Linked DNA regions of Homo sapiens: region 1 is linked to region 2. Evidence: fine-mapped expression QTL. A gene starts in region 2. The other region holds a variant in brackets. All regions are shown on one strand. Distances are from middle to middle.

Region 1 (8,310 bases), 23 kb before region 2:
CCTCAGTGCCATCCACCGTGGGCTGCTCCTCCCAGCACACACCGGTGAGCGCTTACGGGGTGGCAGACGAAAGTGGGGCAGAAGGCTGTCGGGTAGGTGTGTGTTGGGGACCCTGGTTCCTCAGGGGAACTCAGACTGGAGGGAGCCCCTTGCAGCCTCAGAGAGTTGCACGGGAGAGGGGCCAAAGGGCTCTTCCTGGAAGGTTTGTGGTCCCCACAGGACCAGGCCAACTCTGACCGTGCCAGCATTGGCCGACGGAGGACCGAGCTGAGACGCAGTGGCAGCAGCCGGTCACCCGGGAGCAAGGCCCGGGCAGAGGGCCGCGGCCCTGTCACCCCACTGCACCTGGACCTGACCCAGGTGGGCCCAGCACACCCACACAGCCCCTGGCCTGGTTCCCACCGTTCCGCACCACTGGTCTCTGTCTCTGGGCCCAGTTGTCCTGGAGCCACCCAGAGGCCTCTTGCACAGAGAAGGGGTGGCCTAGGCTGTTTCTAGCCGAGAAGCCCATTTCTCCCACCTCTGCCCTGCAGCTGCACAGGCTGAGCCTGGAGAGCAGCCCAGATGCCCCTGACCACACTTCGGAAACATCACACTCGCCCCTCTATGCCGACCCCTACACACCACCCGCCACCTCCCACCGCAGGGTCACAGATGTCCGGGGCCTGGAGGAGGTCAGGCCCCTGCTGGGTGACAGAAAGGGTGGGAGGTGCCTGCAGCCTGAGGCTGGGGAGGTCTAGACCGTGCGTCTCACCCTGGGGTCTGGGGCTGCCCCAAGCCTGAGGTCTGTTCAGGCTCTGATGGGAGGTTGAGGTTCTGGGGGCCCCTGGCTGCCACCCAGGCCCCAGCCCTGGCTCTCCCTGCAGTTCCTCAGTGCCATGCAGAGTGCACGTGGACCCACGCCCTCGAGCCCACTCCCCTCGGTGCCTGTGTCTGTGCCTGCCTCTGACCCTCGCTCCTGCTCCTCCGGCCCCGCTGGCCCCTACTTGCTCTCCAAGAAGGGAGCCCTGCAGTCCAGAGCCGCTCAGAGACACCGGGGCTCAGCCAAGGATGGGGGGCCGCAGCCCCCAGACGCCCCTCAGCTTGTGAGTAGCAGCCCCCACGCCCGTGTGCCCCGGGCTCCGGGCTGGCCGGGGGTCTGGTGTGGGGCCTCTTGGGACTCTGAGGGAGCAGGGAGGGAAACAGGAGGACGGGGGCAGATGGAGGCCAGGGGGGCCAGTAGGGAGTTGGGGAGATGGGACTGGGGAGGGAGAGCAGGGGGACATGGGGGGCTGCACAGTGACAGGCCGCCTCCAAGCTCCCTGCCTGGGGCTGTGCCCGGCTCTCAGACTTGCGGTTTGGGGTTCCAGGTCTCCTCTGCCAGGGAAGGTTCGCCCGAACCCTGGCTGCCTCTGACAGGTGAGTAAGGATCCTGCCTCCTGAGGTGAGTGCCTGTTGCCTCCCACAGGCTGACACATCTCTGCCTTCCCTACCAGATGGTCGGTCCCCCAGGAGGAGCCGGGACCCCGGCTACGACCACCTCTGGGACGAGACTTTGTCTTCCTCCCACCAGAAGTGCCCCCAGCTTGGAGGGCCTGAGGCCAGTGGGGGGCTTGTGCAGTGGATCTGATGGCCGCGGTGAGGTGGGTTCTCAGGACCACCCTCGCCAAGCTCCAGGGTACCTGCCCCTCTAACCCACTTCAAATTACAAGTCAGGGTCTGAACCCAGTGTGATGGGGGGAGTCTCTGGGGCCCTGAGTTCAGAGCCCGTCCCTCAGCTCCTGTTCCTTGGTGCCAGCAGCTGGGGCAGGGAAGGGTGGGAGGGGCCCCATCCAAAGGATGCCCTGGCCAGCGAGGCTGGGTCACAGGTCAGGGAGGTCCTGGCCGTCCACAGGGTCGGCCCTCAGCTCAGCCCGCCAGGAGTCAGGGAGGAGACTCGCTGGGAGTGGGAGGGCAGCACGGGCGTGAAGGTCGGAGGACAGAGAAAGGTCAGCAGGGTCAGAGTATGTGAGGTCAGAGGGCATGAGGGTCACAGGTCAGCAAGGTGTGAGGAGCACAAGCCAGGGTGCCCCGAGGAGGAGGGTGGGTGGGTCCTTGTGTGGCCTGGCGCGCACCACAGGGCAGCACGGGAGACGTTGACACCACCGGACGAGAAAGAAAAAAGAGAGAAGAGAGAGAGGAGAAGAGAGAAAAGAAGAGAAGAGAGAAGAGAAGAGAAGGAAAGAGAGAGAGAGAATAAGAAAAGGAAGAAAGAAAAAGAAAAGATAGAATTTTATTGGTGCTGCATCCATGTGTTCTCTGCTCAGCAGCCAGGGTCTCCCACAGTCTTGAGGACCCCCACCCAGCACCCAGCCAGGCAGCCCCCTTCCTCTGCCACCTCGGGCCCCTCACCGACCTTCCCACCTCATCTCTGACTCCTCTTGGCTGTGGGTCCCCAGCTGCCCCACAGGAGCCCCCGGGACAACCCCAGGAGCCCAGCCCTCCATCTGAGGCCACCGAATTCTCCCTCTGCACCTGCACCCAGGGCTCCCGGGGAGGGGCTCGCGGCTCTGCCACAGACCCCCACCCTGCAGGGGCTGCTGCACTGGGGAGGGGCAGGCAGAGCCTTCGCTGTCTCAGGCCAGAGCCCGCAGAGGCCTTGGCCACAGTCCTTTGAGGATCAAGAGTGATGGGCCTTGGAGCCCTTGCCAGCCCAGCCCACCTGTGAGGAGGCTGCCCATCCCCTCTTTGAGGCCACCCTGTGTCCTCTCCCCTGCCTCTGCCCAGAGCTCCAGCCGGAGTGTCTTGCTGCTCAGACCCCTCCGAGGTCCAAGTCCTGTCCTGCCACTCAGCTCCCCCTGCACCCCAGAAGAAACGCAGGGTGCGGTTGCATTTGATTTCAGATAAACAACAACTTCTTAGTAAAATGACCTCCCCACTATTGCCTGTCTGAAATTAACCGAATGCCCTGTGTTCTCATCTGTGAATCTGGCCACCCTCCTACCCAGCCACCTGCCTGCCCTCCACCCACCCAGACTTTAGCACCTCCCTCCCAGGCGTGGGGAGTGGCCGTGGTCACTGGCTGGATCCTCAGGTGAGTCGGAGGGAGCAGCACCAGGACACGCCCCCCTCCTGGACGCGGTAGAAGAGAGGGGTCAGAGGGCCCGGGCGAGGGCGGCACCTCGTCCTGCCCTGGGCGCCTGTGGTCGTCTCCTCATCCTGCATCTCCCTGGCCCGGGCCTGGCTCCTAGGAGCTGGGGCTGGGGCTGTGGCTGCGGCGCCCTTGCCCC[A/G]CCTGCCGGCGGAAGTAGCGGATGGCAGAGATGGTGCCGACGTTGGCCAGCAAGGCTGCAAGAGAAGCACAGGCTCTTCTGAGGGCCAGCCTGGCTGTCGGCACCGTCTGCCCGCAAGACCCAGCCCTCAAAGGGCGGGCAAGGTCGGTGCGGCCAGGGCCGCAGCTCAGCCTGGGGGGAGCAGGTCAGGGGTGAGCCCCGGGGCCCCCGTGCACCCCTCGTCCTGCCAGCGCCCCTCGGTCTGGCTTCTAGGCGCAGCTCCCTCTGCCCCCAGGCACCCAAACCTGTTTTCCAGGCGTCTGGGGTATGCGGATCTGACGTCCTCACAGCCCAGGTGGCAAAAGCTACAAACACCAGGCACATGTCATTCTGGCTGAAGGCAAATGATGGGACAGGCCCCCGGAGCTCCCCTAGGACAGAAGCTCACCTTCAGCCCCACGGCTGCACTCAGAGATGGCCCCGCACACGCCCGCCCCGGGAACCGCCTGCCCCCACCCCCACCAACCCCGGGAACCGCCTCCCACTCCCCCCGCCAACCCCGGGAACCGCCTCCCACTCCCCCCGCCAACCCCGGGAACCGCCTCCCACTCCCCCCGCCAACCCCGGGAACCGCCTCCCACTCCCCCCGCCAACCCCGGGAACCGCCTCCCACTCCCCCCGCCAACCCCGGGAACCGCCTCCCACTCCCCCCGCCAACCCCGGGAACCGCCTCCCACTCCCCCCGCCAACCCCGGGAACCGCCTCCCACTCCCCCCGCAACCCCGGGAACCGCCTCCCACTCCCCCCGCAACCCCGGGAACCGCCTCCCGCTCCCCCCACCAACCCCGGGAACCGCCTCCCGCTCCCCCCACCAACCCCGGGAACCGCCTCCCGCTCCCCCCGCAACCCCGGGAACCGCCTCCCGCTCCCCCCACCAACCCCGGGAACCGCCTCCCGCTCCCCCCACCAACCCCGGGAACCGCCTCCCGCTCCCCCCACCAACCCCGGGAACCGCCTCCCGCTCCCCCCACCAACCCCGGGAACCGCCTCCCACCACCCCGCCAACCCCGGGAACCGCCTGCCCCCACCGACCAACCCCGGGAACCGCCTCCCACTCCCCCCGCAACCCCGGGAACCGCCTCCCGCTCCCCCCACCAACCCCGGGAACCGCCTCCCGCTCCCCCCACCAACCCCGGGAACCGCCTCCCGCTCCCCCCACCAACCCCGGGAACCGCCTCCCGCTCCCCCCACCAACCCCGGGAACCGCCTCCCGCTCCCCCCACCAACCCCGGGAACCGCCTCCCGCTCCCCCCACCAACCCCGGGAACCGCCTCCCGCTCCCCCCACCAACCCCGGGAACCGCCTCCCGCTCCCCCCACCAACCCCGGGAACCGCCTCCCGCTCCCCCCACCAACCCCGGGAACCGCCTCCCGCTCCCCCCACCAACCCCGGGAACCGCCTCCCGCTCCCCCCACCAACCCCGGGAACCGCCTCCCGCTCCCCCCGCAACCCCGGGAACCGCCTGCCCCCACCGACCAACCCCGGGAACCGCCTCCCACCCCCACCAACCCCGGGAACCGCCTCCCAATCCCCCCAACCCCGGGAACTGCCTCCCACCCCCACCAACCCCGGGAACCGCCTCCCAATCCCCCCAACCCCGGGAACTGCCTCCCACCACCCCCAACCCCGGGAACCGCCTCCCACTCCCCCCGCAACCCCGGGAACCGCCTCCCACCACCCCGCAACCCCGGGAACCGCCTGCCCCCACCGACCAACCCCGGGAACCGCCTCCCAATCCCCCCAACCCCAGGAACCGCCTCCCAACCCCCCCCAACCCCAGGAACCGCCTCCCAACCCCCCCCAACCCCAGGAACTGCCTGCCCCGGGAGCCGCTTCCCCCGCAACCCCGGGAACCACCTGCCCCGCACACGGCCGCCCCGGGAACCGCCTGCCTCCCCCTCCAACCCCAGGAACCGCCTGCCCCACCCTAACCCTGCACACTCTTGGCCTGGGAACTGCCTGCCCCGCACACGCCCGCCCCGGGAACCGCCTGCCCCAGATACATCCATCATGGGACATGTCTGTCCTAAGATACATTTGTGCTGGACACGTCTACCCTGGACACGTCTTCCCGAAACCCCTCTGTCATGGACACGTCTTCCTGAGAACTGGTTGCCCCGGGAACCGCCTGCCCCGGGAACCGCCCGCCCTGGACGCGTCTGTCGGAGTCACATCGCCCCCGTGCTTCTTCTGCCTGAGATTTGGGTGACCTGGTTGAGTTGGGCCAGTTTGGGGGAACTGCCAGTGGAGGCCCCGTGTTCTGGTCTGTAAAGCATCTCCCAGAGGACATCAGTGTGAGATGGGCCTCGTAGAGTGCCTGACCCTGAAGGTAGCCAGGCCTGGGCGGGAACCCTGCCAGAGGCTGGGGGAGGGACGCCGCCGTCACATGGGCCCGAACACAGGGCAACGGCGGCGCAGAGCCAACCCCCTGAACAACCCGGGTGCTTGGACTGGGCCGCCCCATCTGGACTGTGTGCTGGGATGACTGGGGGCTGGTCCCCAGGCTCCCCTGCTAGGGGATGACCCAAGCCCGGCCTGCCCGGCCCCTGCGGCCCCCTGCTTGGCCAAGATCCCTGGACAGTGTGTGCCTGGGATCTGGACGGGCTGTGGGATCCGAGAGCACGTACCTGCCCGTCTAAGAGCCAGGTGGAGCCGCTCTACCACGGCTGGCTTGAGGGGGGTCCCAGGCCCCGCCCCCTCGGAGGCCGACCGGGGAGGCTCCAGGGCCTGCAGTGGGAGCGGGACAGCCGGCCCCAGCACGCCCTCAAGCCTGTCCTCCCCGAAGAAGAAGTGTTCATAGACCTCAGGGATGGAGATGGGCACGGGGTCTCCAGGTATGGGGGCCGGCACAGGATCAGCTCTCGGGAGCGGCTCCGGGGACCCCCGCCGCCTCGACCTCTGGGCTCCAACGTCTGGGAAGAAGAACTCGCACATGTCCGGCCACTGGACGCCTGCCGGATCCTGACCGGCCGCTGCCGCCTCAGCCTCTTCGTTCTCCTCGATGGTGTCACAGAAGAAGAACTCGTAGGCCTCCGGGAGGGTCACGGCAAAGCTGCTCCCGGGCCCGACCCTCGTCACGGCAGAGGGAGGGGGGCGAGGCAGGTGCTTGAGGATCCGAGGCTGGTGGGGCCGGGGCCCGACAGCCACAGCCTCCCAGGCTCCGGGCCCCCCGTGGGCCCCAGTTGCTGTCTGGGGGGCTGAGGGCCGGGCTGAGGCCTGTCCTGAGCCTGGCTTATTGGGGCTGGGCCCAGCCACGGAGAAGCGCACTTTCTTCTTCCTGGGGACTTGGGTGAGACCCAGTGCGGGTGCCCCAGAGCAGCATCCGGGGGCCCCTGCTGAGGGCTCAGACACAACCGCCTCCATCTCCACCACATCAGGCCCAGCTCTGCGGGTGGGAGGCCAGGCGAGGCCAGCGGCGTCGGCTCTGGGAACAGGTGTAGACACAAGCCCGCTGGACTCGGTCATCCTCGGCACAGCCTCCGAGACAGGTGGAGATGAAGCCACCTCTAGCTTAGCCACTGGGCCTGCTGTAGGCAAGGCCACATCCAGGCCATGTTTGGAGGCAGGTGTGGACACAGCCACGTCCGTGTCCAATTGTGGCTTGGAGATGGGTGTAGACAGAGCCACACTGGACTGAGGCTCAGAAGCTGGTGTAGACACAGCCGTGTCAGATTGCGGCTTGGAGGCAGGTATAGACACAGCCATGTCCCTGTCAGGTTGCGGCTCAGAGGCAGGTGTAGACACAGCCATGTCCGTGTCAGGTTGCGGCTCAGAGGCAGGTGTAGACACAGCCATGTCCCTGTCAGATTGCGGCTCGGAGGCAGGTGTAGACACAGCCATGTCCCTGTCAGGTTGCGGCTCGGAGGCAGGTGTAGACACAGCCATGTCTGACTTAGCCCTTGAGACATCTGGGAGGGCTTCCCAGACAGTCGTGGACACTGTGTGCAGCTTGGCTCGGCGCGGGGTTCTGATTTGGTCTGTGCCTTGCTCTGTCACAGGGACAGGTGTAGACAGGCCCAAACCTGGCCCTGGTCTGTCTTCCTGCACAGGGGACCTGGGGCCAGGCTCAGGAGCTCCTGCAGGACCTGGCCCCAACTCCTCCTGCCCGGCTTTGGCCATCAGCTTTGCCGTCTCAGGACTGGCCGCAGGGAGCAGCGGGGAGCCCGTCTGGGCAGAAGCAGAGGCTCCTGTGTGCCCACCCCCCTTGGCACCCACAGCTCGCCTCTTCTTTCGGCTGGGGCTCCGTGGTGGGGCTCCAGGGCTATCGGGGGGCCTCTGGGAGCCAGTGCTGTGGCCAGGGGACTTGGGACTCCCAGGGGGCTCACCAGGGGGCCGTGGGGCAGGGCCCTGCAGAAGCCTCTGCATCTGGTCTCCAGAAGACGCCGGACCAGGGCAGGATGAGAACTGGCTGGGAGGGCTGGCGCCGGGGCCGAGGGACGGTGGAGCTTCTGCCCGTGCGGACGTGCTGGGTGTCTGCTGACCGGTCCCCAGGGCCAAGACAGGCTCACCCTGAGACCTGCTGACCGGCTGCTGTGTGGCCACGTCCTCCTCCTCGCAGCCCCGCCGGCTCCGCCCTCCTGCAGCTAGCTGCCCAGTTGGGAGAGGTGGGGCCCTGGGGGGACTGCTGCCACTGCTGTCCCCTTGGTCAATGTCACTGGACAAGAGCTCGTCCCCAGAGGCCAGGCCGGCCTGCAGGAGGCCACACTCATCGGCGGTGGCTGAGAACTCGGCCCAGTCCTGGTCACTCAGCTGGACGCTGTACTGGAAATTTTCCATGTGGAGTCAGCAGAGGCACTGGAGGGTAGCAGAATGGGTCCGGTGGGGTCTTCATGGGTTCAGGCCCCGGGCACCACCCTGCACATGCCGCCCCTGCCCCACGAGACCTGGGAGCTCCCACCGCCTCGGGGCTCCATCCATGCCCTGAAAGGAAGAGAACAGCATCTCGAGGGGAGGGCCGCGCTTCCTTCAAACCTAGTGGTGACGATTTCCAAGTTAGAAGATCCCCAGCTCCCATGACCCTAGT
Region 2 (8,310 bases):
GATGCAGGGTGGGGAGGACAGAAAGGACCCCCCGCTGGAGGGGGCACCCCACATCTGGGGCCACAGGATGCAGGGTGGGGAGGGCAGAAAGGACCCCCCGCTGGAGGGGGCACCTCACGTCTGGGGCCACAGGATGCAGGGTGGGGAGGACAGAAAGGACCCCCCGCTGGAGGGGGCACCCCACATCTGGGGCCACAGGATGCAGGGTGGGGAGGGCAGAAAGGACCCCCCGCGGGAGGGGGCACCTCACGTCTGGGGCCACAGGATGCAGGGTGGGGAGGGCAGAAAGAACCCCCGCTGGAGGGGGCACCCCACATCTGGGGCCACAGGATGCAGGGTGGGGAGGGCAGAAAGGACCCCCCGCGGGAGGGGGCACCTCACGTCTGGGGCCACAGGATGCAGGGTGGGGAGGGCAGAAAGAACCCCCGCGTGCCTAAGCAGGTTCTGGTGGGCGTCCTGGCTGGGTGTAGGCAGAGGCTGGCTCCCGGAGGCCCGAGGGGGGCTCTGAGAAGGGGGCGGCCTGAGGGGGAGCCCAGGACAGCCCCTATGCTGCCCCCGTCCAGCCCGGCCCCTCAGGCTGTGTTTCCTGAGACCTCGCTAGTCTAACCCAAACCTCCCAGCTCTGTCATTCAAAGGGATGGATTAGGTCCCCGTGGGTCCATTTCCCTGTTTTGGGTGCTGAGGACAGAGCTTCTGGACAGACTCAGCCCTCGCCCTCTGGAGCCCCGTCCAGCTGGGCCCGGATGATGCACCACCCAGCCTGCGGCAGATGGGATGGACGACAAGTTAGGAGGAAACAAGGGGGAAAAGCCAGGGGGCAGGTGGTGTGGAGCACAAAGGAACCCAGACTGCGAAGGGACTGCCCAAGGACTGTGATTCCCCCAGAACCTGAGTGGTCCCTGGGCAGCTATGCAGGGCCCTTTCGCCACAGTGGAGAGGGCATTCAAGGCCAGAGCCTGGTGGAGAGATGCCCTGCCCTCTTGGGACCCACAGCCCGGGTGACTTTGTGGGGTGCCTCTCTTACCCTGAGCTCCTCCCCACACTCCCAGCTTCGCTGCCCCAGGCCCTCCTTCCCCTTCTGCACTGATGCCTTCTCTGAGCAACTCCCCTCCCCCGGCCACGCTGAGCTTCCAGCTGCCCCCAAGAAGACCGTCCCTTCCTGTGCTGCTGAGGAGGCCTCCCTCACGGGGTCTCAAGCTCCCAAGGGGAAGGGGGCCTCCCTCACGGGGTCTCAAGCTCCCAAGGAGAAGGGGGCCTCCCTCATGGGGTCTCAGGCTCCCAAGGGGAAGGGCTACTTTGAGGCTCTCCTGGGACCAGGACCCCCAGAGTAGGACTGCTGGGGGGACCAAGGGTGGGACCCCCAGCCCAATGCTACCCCGCCCAGGGTCACTGGCCTGGCCCTCGGAGCTCAGGGAGGGGGCAGGGCAGCCAGGGGCCAGGGGTGGCCTGGCTTGTTGGGCCTGGGAGGCTCCTACAAGCTGTGCACGGCTGTGTCCTGGAGGGCCCAGGGGGGCTCCTGATGGAGGCACAGACTGGGGCCTGGAGGGCCAGTGCTGGTGGGAGGGCTCGCTCGCCTCCCGTGGGCCCTGGTGAACTCGGCCCCAGTTGGGAAATGGCCCTGGGTGCGGCTCAGGGGGAGACCCTCTGCCTCGGCTGAGTGCCTCGAACTGCGCCGGACCCCCCCGAACGCGGGACCGGGATGGCGACCGCGGCGCTGGTTCAGGGGAACGTCCGGCGCTGCCTGGTAACTCGGTGGTCGACAACGGCACGTGCTCGGGACGATGAGGGAGGAGCCCCCAGTCCTCACCCACTGGGGAGGCGGAACCTCCCTTACCGGGGCAGGGGAGGCTGCGGGCAGGGCCGACGCCCTCGTGAGCGACGTCCTTGGCCCCGGCACTCGGTGTCCACAGCCCAGCTCGGACCCGCGCGCTCCCGCCGGGCGCCCCCCGCACAGACGCCTGGAGGAGGGGTCTGCGGTGGGCACGGGCAGCTCTGCACTTAACAGGAGAACCCAGCGGGGGTCTTCAGGGCCAAGGGCGGCCGCCCTCATCCCAGCGCCGCTCAGGACCGCAGCCTCCGCCTTCCGCGGTCCGGGGACTGGGAGTCGGGAAAGGGGCCTCCGAAAAGTAACTTGCCCGGCGATGCTGCGCGACCGCCTTCCAGCACCGGGAAGATTCTGGGCACTCAGGGACGTTGAGCTTCCCACCTGAGCCTCCGGGGGGACCCCTCACAACCGCCACCGCAGAGCGAGGCAAACCCAACGCGGGGGCAGAGGGCGGGTGCGCATGCGGGGCTGCAGGGATGCGGAGGGGAGGGCGCGGAGCGGAGGGCGCGGAGCGGAGGGGTCGCCCTCAGTCCTCGGTCCCGCCCCCAGCCCGCCCCCCCGGGCCCGCCCGACGCCCCCAGCCACCTGCAGACCGCGGCCCTGGGAGGAGGGCGGGACCCCGGCGCGGCGTGGCTGCGGGGCGCTCCCAAAGTCAACTCTTCACCAAGACAAAGAAAGAAAACTCGTGACGCAGACTCTGGAATAATAAATACGTTTTCTCTGCTACAGTCTCGGCAAAGGCCACGGCCCTAGAACGGGGCGCCGCCTCCGATGCAGTCTCAGGGCCACAGCCTCAGCGCAGCCACGGCCTCCAGGGCCCACCCGGGCCCTGCGGCCCCGCCCTGGGGGCGGCGGGCAGCGCCCGGGTCAGACCCGGCAGCAGCGGCGGCGCGAGCAGAGGGAAGGGGCCGCCGAGCGATGGCAGCAGCGGGCGGCCCGCGTAGACCTCGGGCGCTGGGGCCTCTGCGGGGGCAGCCGGGGACAGCGAGGCCGGGCGGCGGGAGGGTCCCAGCTGGCGCAGGCAGGCTGCCAGGTGGCCCAGCAGGCGGGAGCGCACGTCGGCCGGGACGCCCTCGCAGCCGGCCAGGAAGCGGTTCACCTCCGCCAGACACTCGTGGAAGCCGGCGCGGTACTTGCCCAGAACGGCGGGGTCGGCGCTGAGCGCGGCTGCGGGAGCGACACAGGAGGAGAGGTCGGTGCCGGGTCCCGGGGGTCCCGCGCCCTCCCCCCGCCTCCAAGCCGCCGCCGCCCGCGCCTCACCCGTCACCTGCACGCGACGCAGGCTCCGCAGGTGTCTCACGGTCATCTCCAGGATGTCCGCCTTCTCCAGCTTCGAGTGGCGGGAGCTCTGGGGGCGGGGATAGGCGGGAGGTCCAGGTCAGCTGCGACCCAGACTCCGGGTCTCGGGCCTTCGCCCCCGACTTACCTCTTTTCTGAGGGCGTCCAGGATGAGGGTTTTGAGCTGAGCGAGGCTCTCGTTAATACGCGCTCGGCGCCGCTTCTCCATGACCGGCTTGGAGGACTGCGGGTCGGGCACCGGCTGAGTCCCGCGTCCCTCCCGCCCCCCGGTCGCCCCCCTCACGCCCGGCCGGGACCCCACCTTGCGGTGCTCGGCCGCGCTCCGGGGCTTGTCTGGGGTCCGGCTGGCGCTGGCCGGCGCTCCTGCCATCGGCGAGGCGCTCGGTTTCCCCGGCGTGTCTGCGGCCATGGTGCGCCCCGCGCCTCCCCGTGCCGGGTGGAGCGCGCCGCCACGGACCACGGGCGGGCTGGCGGGCGAGCGGCGAGCGCGCGGCGATCCGAGCCCCTAGGGCGGATCCCGGCTCCAGGCCCGCGCGCGCCTCAGGCCGTTTCCCTATTTAAGGCCTCGCCGCCGCGGGGTGTGTGAACCCGGCTCCGCATTCTTTCCCACACTCGCCCCAGCCAATCGACGGCCGCGCTCCTCCCCCGCTCGCTGTCAGTCACGCCTCGGCTCCGGGCGCGGCCTCCGCGGGCGACAATGGCATGCGGGGCCCCCGCCCGCGCCCCCCTCCGACACCGCTGGGGACAGGGCCGGGTGATCCCGCGCTCCCCGATGCAGCCGGGGCCGAGCAACGCGCCGGGAGGGGCCGCTGGGGGCGAACGGGGCCCGGGACCCCCGGGGCTGGGCGGAGTCTCGGGGCTCACTCTCCCGCCCAGGGGGCCGGGAGCCGGGGCTGGACGGAGCTGGGGCTGTGGCCGCGCGGGAAGTCGGGAAGGAAATTCCCCCAGTGGCGCAGGGTCCGGCGGCGCCGAGGGGTGGGCGAGCCTCGGTCTCGAGCCTCTTGGCTTCCTCCGCCCGTCCCCACTCCGGTCCCGGTTTGGGCCCTGCTCGGTCTCCGAGTTTGATCCGACACCGGCTCGGCCTCCGGGGGTCCCACCCTCAGGTGTGCGGCCTGGAGCACGGAGGGCTGCAGAAAGCCTTGGGAGCGACAGAGCCGGGGGAAGGTCGGCGGCCGGGTCGGCAGGCGGGAGGGCGGAGTCAGCGGACGGCGAAGGGGCGCACGGGTGGCCCCGCAGAGCAGGGCCGGTGATGGCGCGGGCCGGGCCGGACCACGAGGAGCAGAACGTGCGCGTGACGCGAGCGGGCTGGTGACGTCACCAGGCACCCGGGGCGATGACGCAAGCCTGCTGGGATGACGTCATGTGGCCCGTGTCGCCACGTGCTTCCAGGTGACCCGCTGGCGAACTCAGCAGCAGCAAAGTGGGGCTCACAGAAAAATGAGGGGCCACTGTTAATATAACTGCAAAGGGGCAGGTTGCGTAAAACAGGGCTGTGGTTATTTTCGTGTTTGCTGTTTTTATTTCGAATGCCGCTGCGGGGCACGTTGGTCCTTTCCGCACTCGGGGTCCCCGGCGGCCTCACGCGTCCGTGCAGCGGAGGCTTCCTGAGCCCCCTGGAGAGCCTGGCCTGGGCCCGGGTGTGGAGACCCTCCCGGGCTTTCAATCCGGGCAGGAGGCAGATGGCAGACTCAGCAGTCACGTAAGAGAACCGAATTAGGTGGGTGGCCTGGGTGGACAAAAGCCTTCTTGACGCCGGGTGGTCCCAAAGGCTTCTGCGGGGTGGGGGGTCCTCAGGGGGGAAGCCTCAAGGGAGGGCGTGGCATTCCCAGGGTGCGAAGGGGGCGCAGGGACGAGGGAGGTGGGGAGGGGGAGCTGGGCCAGCGAGAACCGGGAGCTTCTGGTCGGGGAGGGAGTCGGGGAACTTTTTGGGGAGCTTTTCTGAGCCAGGGAGTCGGCTGATTGGCAGGTTCGCCCCTGCCCGGGCACCTGGACCCAGGGTTTCTGTGCGGAAGCTTCCCCTCCCCTCGGACCCCACGTCTAATCTGGCCCCAAGCAAAGTCCTGCGGCCCACGCGGGAAGGCGCCCTCTTCGCGGCGCTGACCCCGGCCCTCCGCGGTGCCCCTGAGGCGCCCCCCACACCCCGCCGCTTGCACAGGGGCGCGGGGGGCTGCGAGGCCGGAGCGGGGGTGGCGCCCTCTCCGCCGAGAGGCTGTCCGCGCCCCTCGCCGACTGGGGAAAGCCGCGGGGGCTGGGCGGGCGTCTCGGAGGTGGCCCCGCGAGCACTTAAGCCCCGGCTCTCCTGCCCCGACCTCTCTGCGCGCGCCTCGGCGCTGGAGAGGCTCGGACCGGCCCCGTAGCCCAGGAGGTGGTGTGGATGGTGTCCCCGTCCCGCGTCCCTCCCCGGCCTGAGCGCTGGGCCCGGGCGGGAAAGCCCGCGAGCGCCCCCAGTGGCCGCAGTCGCCGCCGCCTCCTGCTGGGGGTCATCCCAGGGGAGCTGCCGGCCTGAATCTCCCCAGCCCCTGGGCCCCGGCTTGGGAAGAAATTTGGGGGGGCTCTGGGCCTCCCCCAGTCCCTAGACAGGCAGGGAGTTCGGGATGGAAGGAGGAGCCTGAGGATCGTTTTTATTTATTTTTTTTTTGTAGAGATGGGGATCTCCCTATGTTGCCCAGGCTGGTCTCGAACTCCTGGCCCGAGACGATGCTCCTGCCTCGGCCTCCCAACGTGCTGGGACTACAGGCGTGAGTCTCCTCCCTGCCAAGCGTGGCTGGGACTGATCATTCCCTCACTGGTTTTTAGATGGGCTCACTTCCCCTCCTTGTACCTGTTTTCTCATCTGTAAAAGGGAGCTAACTTTTTTTTTTTTTTTTTTTTGAGGCAGCGTCTCGCTCTGTTGCCCAGGCTGGAGTGCAGTGGCACCACAACCTTTGCCTCCCGGGTTCAAGCGATTCTCCTGCCTCAGCCTCCCAAGTAGCTGGGATTACAAGCATGTACCACCACGCCCGGCTAGTGTTTTGTATTTTTAGTAGAGATGGGGTTTCACTGTGTTGGCCAGGCTGGTCTTAATAGGAGATTCTACTTTTTTTTTTTCTTTTTTGAGACGGAGTTTCACTCTTGTCGCTCAGGCTGGAGTGCAGTGGCACGATCTGGGCTCACCACAACCTCTGCTTCCTGTATTCAAGCGATTCTCCTGCCTCAGCCTCTGGAGTAGCTGGGATTACAGGCGTGTGCCGCCACACCTGGCTAATTTTTGTATTTTTAGTAGAGATGTAGTTTCTCCATGTTGGTCAGGCTGGTCTCAAACTCCCCACCTCAGGTGATCCACGCACCTCAGCCTCCCAAAGTGCTGGGATTACAGGTGTGAGCCACCGTGCCTGGCCAGGAGATTCTACTTTTAAAGCCACTGACGGCGTCCAACTCATAGTGAGCACCCACGCCCATCTGCCAGGGTTCCTGCCCCTGGGCAGCAGCTGGGGTCCTTGCTGAGCAGAGGCAGGAGGGGCCACCAGCACTTGCCTCTGCTCTTCTGGAGAGGAAGAGACCCCCCTGCTCCCTGCCCCCTGCCAGGGAGCCCACTCCAGGATCTCCGGGGACTGTGTTCCTCCCACCTTCTTTGCCACAGGACAGCTCCCATCTGTGTGTCTGTCTCTCTGGGTCTGTGCCCTTGGCCTCTGATGGTCCCCTCCCTGCCTCTCGAATCTGGCCTCGATTTGTGGTAGGGGCCTCAGGGTTCCTGAGGGCCTTGGGGTTCCCTTGCTCTGAGTGTGGGGGTGGATCCTGGGCTGCAGCCCAGGATGGTGCCGACACCTGGGTTGGGGGCAGGTTGCGTTTTTCAGAGACGGCCGTGATAGTATCTCCCATCCCCATATCTTGAAATGCCTTCTACATGAGACTCTGTGACAGTCTCAGCTGGGAAGAATGGGGTGTTTGGCAGGACATGACTTCTGAGGCTGACTTGGAAGACGCCATGCGTACCTCGCTGTCCTGGGACAGTCGCTCTTGGAACCCAGCTGCCGTGCTGGGAGGGAGCACGCCCTGGCCTCAAGGAGAGGCCCCGTGGAGGAATCAGCATTGGATTCCAGACTCCTGAGCAGCTTCCGGCGCAGGTCCCAGCGCGCCCCGTTCCAAGGCTGCCCGCACACAGTAGGGTGGTTGCTGAGCGTGCTGTTTTGGGGTGGTTTGTGGTGCGGCACTCAAGACTGGAATAGTGGAGGTGGGCTGGGGCCCTGACCCAGGGAGAGTGACCCTTCCCTCCTCACCCCTGCTCCCTCCTCGCTGATCCCTTCCTCTCTTCCACAGAGGCAGAGGCTCAGCGACTTCCCCACCCCTCCCCCCCATCTAACGGGTGCTTCTTGGGAGCCACTGAAATCCAGCCGACCTCCTGGCCCTGAGTGGGTCAAGCTCCAAATGGCGGGTGGCCCCGGGGCATCTGCACAGCCCCCTGTTAGCTAAGGGGGGTGACTGATGAGGACATTCACACGCCAGTGGGGAGACTGTGGGGAAAACCGGGGTGTCTTCTAGGCTGGACCTGGGGGGGCCTCAGCCTTGTTGGGGGGTCTCCTCACATTGGGCCACTGTGGCCGCACTCCATGACCACAGCCAGTGTCCCCAAAAGGCCTGTGAGGTGCTGGCTGTGACCTCCCCTCCCAACCTCTGACCCAGAGGTGGCGGCTGCCATCTCGCCACGGCCCTCAACACCCCCCTCACACACTGACTCCTGACATCAGAGACCTGTAGCCACCCCCTGCAGGTGGTCCTCAGCATGGTCCCCAACTCCTGCCCAGGGCAGCGGGCTGTGCACTCAGGCAGCTGGGGCCAAAGCCACCGAGGAACCAAGGCTGGGGTGGGGGTGGGTTTCTCTCCCGGAGAGCCGAGGTGGGCGCAGAGCTGTTCCTGGGTGTTTGCTGGGATTGTAGTGACAGAAGGCCAGGGCTGCAGGAATCCAGGCTGCCAGAGAGAGACCAGGACTCAGGCAGAAGCAGCAGCACCAGGCTGGTGCCACTGCCACCCCACCTGCATGCCTTCTCAGCAGCGGTGGGAGCTGTGTCTCCAAGCAGGATGGTACTGGAGTCTCCCCACCCTGCCTGTCTGGGATGCCCTCCCAGCCTGTTCCTGCTCCCGGCAGGCGCTGCTTTTCTCTCTGCTGTACCAGGACGAGGTGGGTGCCCTTGTCCCTCCTCACTGGCACT

Evidence for each region.
Region 1: its variant is fine-mapped to the expression of HES4 in monocytes after LPS (Fairfax 2014, PIP 0.95).

The regions. Positions count from the first base shown.
Region 1 is chr1:972,967-981,276 of GRCh38, forward strand. PLEKHN1 (pleckstrin homology domain containing N1) reads left to right here. Exons shown (of 16, transcript NM_032129.3): 11 at 1-44; 12 at 220-360; 13 at 534-674; 14 at 867-1,085; 15 at 1,350-1,398; 16 at 1,476-2,899. The coding sequence ends at 1,609. It overlaps PERM1 (PPARGC1 and ESRR induced regulator, muscle 1), which reads right to left. Exons shown (of 4, transcript NM_001394713.1): 2 at 5,915-8,207; 3 at 3,533-3,658; 4 at 2,232-3,303. The coding sequence starts at 8,063. The coding sequence ends at 3,206. Among named protein-coding and RNA genes, the nearest start is that of PERM1, 5.0 kb to the right of the region's middle. The variant A/G (reference allele first, on the strand shown) is at 3,249.
Region 2 is chr1:996,441-1,004,750 of GRCh38, forward strand. It overlaps HES4 (hes family bHLH transcription factor 4), which reads right to left and starts at 3,657. Exons shown (of 4, transcript NM_021170.4): 1 at 3,426-3,657; 2 at 3,252-3,347; 3 at 3,086-3,173; 4 at 2,524-2,992. The coding sequence starts at 3,533. The coding sequence ends at 2,619. RefSeq lists silencers at 2,623-2,932, 3,483-3,622, 3,693-4,072, 4,173-4,222, 5,300-5,649 and an enhancer at 5,700-5,839.